Linked DNA regions of Homo sapiens: region 2 is linked to region 1. The links come from fine-mapping of genetic effects on gene expression. A gene starts in region 1. The other region holds a variant in brackets. All regions are shown on one strand. Distances are between the middles of the regions.

Region 1 (2,901 bases):
AGCTGCAGCCAAACCATGCAGATTTCTCCGACTCTGCAATCTCTGGGACTTGGCACCATGACTCAGATGTGAATGAAGTCAGGATAGTTTTATTTTGGTTGGAAGTCACCGCCTCCTGATTGATTTGGCAGACGTTAAGTGTTGTTTGTCTTACAGGGATTTAAGGTACTTAAAGCCAGAAGTTAAAATGGCCATCATTCTGGTGGTGGCCCTTCATACGTGACTTAAGGATCCCTAAATTGTAAGGTTAAGGGAGCTGTGGTCCCAGCCTACCAGTTCTGGCTTTACTTCCCATCCAGCAGCACACTGGATATTGAAGAAAGTCAGTGAAATGTTAGATCCAGGGGACTGACCGCTAAAACTCCCAGGGTATCTAGAAGAGCTAAGTACGTGGTAGGGGATTCGCTTTTCCAAATTGAGGAGGGTGAACTTCCCCCAACCCAATCAAGATCTTTTGGACCAAATGATGTCCAACTGCTTGAAACAACTCAGCTGCACAGAGACAGAAATAAACAAAACAGCTTTAGTCTGAGGTTGTGTGGGGCACTGCAAGATGCTGCTTCTCCAATTCATCTGTCCACACAGCACGGTTCCCCATTGAATAAACAGGTTACTATCCACTTATCAGAGAAGTTAGGGAGGACCTGCCTTTTAATGCTGCTTAGAGAGACACTTTGTGATGAGAAAAGAGCTCGTACAAAAGATTTTTTTCTCCCCCCTCCCGCTGAAGTGCTGGGGTTGTGTGCTTCCACGTACATCTGGGATACCATTATATTTACAAACAGAGGTCTCATAGCCTGTGTCAATGAGCGGGAACGTTGGGGAATTTGGACCCCAATTTCTTGTTCTTCTGCACTTGACCTTGCCTTCCAATTCGTTATGAAATACATTGACTAGTTTTGCTTCTTCCATTCTACAAATCATGCGAATTTTCTATACTAAACTGTGTTTTCCCAGAGGCAGTGTAGGAGGGAGTCAGCTGGACTTGGTTTCCAGGCAATGAGAGGCTCCCAGGTCGATCCCATTAAGGCAATGCCCTCATTTTGAATAGCAGATGACCGGGACCCCTCCTCCCCCACACACCTGAATTGGAAAATTGGCTCGGCTTTGTACAAGCCCTTGCCCTTAGGCTGTCCATAAAATAGGAACAATACTGAAGACAATCCTGTAAGCTACAAAAGCAAAGGCTCCGGCGCGTAGTAGGTCCGTCTCCTCCTCCCGCCGAGGGACGCCAGAGTTAAGGAGCTTCTTGCTGGGAAGGGGTCCCTCCTTTCAGCCGGAACCTGACCCGCAGAATGTATCGGAAATGTGAGCAGCCCTAGTATCCCTTCCCCGTCGACGCTCGGTGAAAAATCGATCGACGACCGAGGGCGCGCAGTCCCTTCCCCTCACACCCGCCAGCGCCAGGGGCGCGGTCGCCTCCCTGGCCTCCGCGCCCGCGGCTTGGGGCCTCAGGAGAAAGCGAGACTCCGGGGCGCGCCGGCGGCGGTGGCTTTCTGTATCCTCGCGGGTCCCTAGCCCCGCGTCCGCGTGCGCGGCGGCCTCGGGGGCGCGGCGGGAGCGGGCGTGGCGAGCGAGCCGGCCTTCCTGCTGCAGCTGCTCCCCCGGCGGCCGGGCGGAGAGTGCGGATTGCGCGCGCTCGGGGCGGGGGAGCGGGCGCGCGCGAGGCTGCCGGGCTCGCGCCGCGCCGCGCCGCCTAGTCCCCGCCGGGCCGCCCGCCCCGCCCCTGGCCTCCCGCGAGCTGCGCACCGCCGGCCGCTGCCCCAGCTGCCCGAGCCCGCGCCCTCGTCCGCGCGACCCGGCGGGGGGCTCCAGGCCGGCAGCATGAGCGGCGGCGGCGACGTGGTGTGCACCGGCTGGCTGAGGAAATCGCCTCCCGAGAAGAAGTTGAGGCGCTATGTGAGTGCGGGCGCGGCCGCCCAGGGGCGGGCGGGGGGCGCTCCGGGGCCTGCGGAGGGGCGGGGGACTCCCGGAGGGGCGGCAGGCTGGGGAGCTCGGGCCCGGAGCCGCGGGGGGCCGGGGGCGAGGAGCGGCCGGGGGCGTGTGGGGCACCTGCACACCTGTCACAGGTGGGCCGCCGAGGGGCGGGGCGGGCGGCAGGTTGAGGCTGCGGCTCCTGCTCCGCCAGGCGGGTGCGGCTGCGGCGCCTCCCAAGCCGGTCTGCTCGTGAACTAAATACAGTGTCGAAGTTTTGTATTGATGGCTTCTGGAGACCGAGAGAGTTGACTCTCGGGGCTGGGGCTCCGCGGCAGCCCCGAGCAGCTTCAGCCCGCAGGGTCGGGGAGAGGGCGGGAAAGGGGGGCGTAGGCTGTGGGGCCGCGCGGACGGCCCCACAAAGGGCGAGCGCCTCACGCCCTCTCCTTCCCTTTCTCCGCCTGCCCCTCCCGGCCGCCGGCCTCCCTCCGTCCGCGGCTGCATCACCGGCAGCGTCAGCGGCATGTGCAGCCCTTGTATTAAGTGACTCATTTGTTTGTCCCCCTTCTTTCCCTTTATTCCGTTCGTCTCTCACAGGCGCCTCCCCCCGACCCCGGTGTGACACTGCAGTTTGGTCCCCGTGGCTGGCCCGGGTTTGGGACCGGGCAGCTCCCGGGTGTCTGGGGTCGGGAGAGATCGAGGCTCTCCGCGGCCAGGTGTTGCCAACCGACAGTGTTTACTGAGATCGCTGGAACAGCCTTTTCCCTCTAGGTGGGGAACTGGCAGCCTGGGGGAGGTGGAACAGCGTGGCGCTGAGCCGTGGAGTTCTGGCTTTTTTTTTTTTTTTTTTTAACCCCTCTCCCCAGAGGATGCCTTGCCTGGTGAGGTCAAAGTACAAGATGGTGCCAGTTACTGAGATTTGGCCGAAATGGTCTTGGGGTAGTCGCGGGAGTTTGGAAGTGGGGGTAAGGTTGCTGGAAGGTTTCA
Region 2 (2,901 bases), 330 kb after region 1:
CAGGAGCTCTAGACCAACCTGGGCAACATAGCAGACCCTGTCTACAAAAAATTTAAAAATTAGCCAGCATGATCGCACCACTGCACTCCAGTCTGTGTGACAGAATGAGACCCTGACTTGAGAAAAAGAAAAGCAAAATTCTAACTTGAAATATTGTCAGGTAGCGTTTTTTCTATAGAGATAAAAGGTCCATGCTTTATGTAATCACTCTTAGCTGGTATTTAATTCTTCCACTCAGGAAATCACTATCTTTGATGCATACACCTTTGCATAAACCTCTGGTTTAATCAGCCTCATTTGGATAAAATGTTTATTCTACTAATGAATGGACATGACAGGAAGACATTTTAGCTCAACATCAGGAAGGGCTTTCCAAAGGGAACTGTTCAATCTGCAGTATTAGAGGTGGGTGAGCAGATGTCACGCATGTCTGTGTGAAGACGCCACCAACAGGCTTTGTGTGAGCAACAAGGCTGTTTATTCACTTGGGTGCAAGTGGGCTGAGTCTGAAAAGAGAGTCAGCGAAGGGAGATGGGGAAGGGGTTGCCCTATAGGAGTTGGGTAGGTAATGGAAAATTACACTAAAAGGTGGTTATCTATTGTTAGCAGAGGAGGGGGGTCACAAGGTACATGGTAGGGAGATCATAAGACTCATTGTCCAGAAGAAGAATGTCACAAGGTCAATCGATCCATTAAGGTAGGGCAGGGACCAGTCACAATGGTGGAATGGTGGAATGTTGGTTAATCTGTTAAGGCAGGAACTGGCTGTTTTACTTCTTTTGTGGTTTTTCAGCTGCCCCAGACTTCTTGGCTCCTGCAGGCCATCTGGACACATATGTGCAAGTCACAGGGGTTACAATGGCTGAGCTTCGGCGCAGAGGCCTGACATTCCTGTCTTTTTATTTATAAAATATAAAGTTATAAGAAAAGATAAAGAAAATATAAGTTTTTACTGGGGATTATTGGGGCAGGGGCGATGTTTCTCAGGGCTGCTTCAGGCATGACTTAGGGGCAGCATGGACACCTAAAGAAAATTTAATTTTATAGTGAGTTGGTCTAGAAAGTTTTCGGGTACAATTTTGTGTGGCTAACAAGGCACCAGTTAGCATATTTTTGAGCTTGGAATTCTCCTAGTAGAATAAATTATCTAAAAATAGCAATTAAGCATAATAGCTTTAAGGTAGGTGGCAGTGAGTTTTTAGGCCAAGGTAGGAATAACGTTTTATATACCAAGGCCTTTTGTCCCCATTTGCCATCATATGAATAGGATCCCCTGGCATCGAGCCAAAAGTCTATTATGTTACTTTTTTCCCAAAGGTGTGAGTGGTGTTTTGAATGGAGGAGTTCAATAGTCCTTACTGCAGACCCTATACAGGAAAGACAGTAAGTACAATAGTCCCTGTCTCCTGGAATAAGTTGGGGCTGGCAAAGAGAGAAATGTCCTAGGCCTTCTAATAACCAATGACAGACCATGTGTCGTCCTGGATGTTGACCTGAGTGCCAGATATGTGGAACTGGTCCT[C/G]TATATGCATATTGCTGGTCATTTCTATATGAGTAGGCCTGAGGACCCCATGGGCAAGGATTTGACAGCTGCCACCCCAGGCATTTTAGATTTTTAATTCAGAGGTCTTTGATTTTGGGGGTGGGGAACATTTTGGAGGACAAGGCCTGAAGGAAGTTGTTTTTATAGACAGCAGGTCCTCAGAGATTATGGTTTAGAGGAACGGGTGAAGCAGGCCTGGAAGTATGTTTGGACAGCCGTTTGGAGGGGGTGTTGCACAGAAGCTTGGTCTTGTCTGGATGTTGCCAGGAGTTCATCACTGGTTTAGTCCTAAAGGTGAGAAGGAGTATAATAGGACGAGGAATAGAAGTTTAGGCTGTGGGGAGATTTTGGGGCACCGGATAGTACCATGGGGTTGTTAGAAGCAGCAACTGCAGTATGGAATGATTGGTGATGGCCTGGATGCGGTTTTGTGTGAATTGAGGGACTAAATGAAAGACAAAAGGCCCAAATAAGAGAAGGAGAAAAACAGGTACCAGGGGACTAAGAGTAGGAAGGAGCCAAGACGCCCAGTTAAAAAGTGCCCAGGTAGGTCCAGCATAATTATTTGCCTGGCTGGCGAGTTTTGGGGCCCTAACTTTAAGCTTTTTTATGTTGTCATATAGCAGGCTGGATTGATTTAGATAAAAACAACATTCTTCATTTAAAAATATGCAGAGTTCTCCTTTTTCAGCAGTGAGTAGGTCAAGGCCTTGGTGATTTTGGAGGACAACTGCGACTAAGGAACCGACCTGGGCCCGAAGGACTGATAAAGTTTGTGATATATCTGTAATGCTAGCAGGAAAGTCATTAGAAAGACAATGGAAGGTTGTGACAGAAGTTGAAATGCCAGGTAGGTCAGAGAGATACAGTCATGGGGGTCAGGTGTGGTATCAGGAATAATGTGGGAGGCCGGATTGAAGTCTGGGCCAGGAACAATGGTAATTATGGGAGACTCAACAAAGAGTGAGTATAGCTGAAGGAGCTGGAGGGGCAGAAAGTATATGCATCAGGTTTGAGGAAGAAAATAGATTTTGAAAGTTATGAGAACTGTAGAGAGTGAGTTGAGCATAGTTTGCGATTTTAAGGGCCTCTAAAAGTATTAGAGCGGTGGCAGCTGCCACACGCAAACATGAGGGCCAGCCTAAAACAGTAAGGTCAAGTTGTTCAGACAAAAAGGCTACAGGGCGCGGTCCCGGTCCTTGTGTAAGAATTCCGACCACACAGCCCTGTACTTCAGCTGTGTGTAATGAAAAGGGTTGGGATGAGTCAGGGAGAGCTAGTGTGGTAGCAGTTTCTAGAGCTGTTTTCAAGGAATGGAAAGAGGAGTGGGGAAAGGATTTAGGATCTGTGGGGTTGGC

Direction of the effects. Positions count from the first base shown, and alleles are read on the strand shown. Sizes are in standard deviations (SD) of each study's normalised expression.
In carriers of allele C in region 2, the expression in cerebellar hemisphere of the gene that starts at base 1,725 in region 1 tends to be lower than with G alone (small effect, 0.26 SD a copy in GTEx).

What was found. PIP is the estimated chance that this variant, and not a neighbour inherited with it, causes the effect.
Region 2: its variant is the best candidate, but not a certain one, in a credible set for the expression of GAB2 in cerebellar hemisphere (GTEx, PIP 0.60).

Annotation. Positions count from the first base shown.
Region 1 is chr11:78,416,644-78,419,544 of GRCh38, reverse strand. GAB2 (GRB2 associated binding protein 2) reads left to right here and starts at 1,725. Exons shown (of 10, transcript NM_080491.3): 1 at 1,725-1,899. The coding sequence starts at 1,825. RefSeq lists silencers at 1,336-1,955, 2,066-2,165, 2,236-2,365, 2,828-2,901 and an enhancer at 1,985-2,739.
Region 2 is chr11:78,084,550-78,087,450 of GRCh38, reverse strand. It overlaps LOC105369401 (a long non-coding RNA gene), which reads right to left. Exons shown (of 3, transcript XR_950342.2): 3 at 456-1,831. Among named protein-coding and RNA genes, the nearest start is that of NDUFC2-KCTD14, 6.1 kb to the right of the region's middle. The variant C/G (reference allele first, on the strand shown) is at 1,523.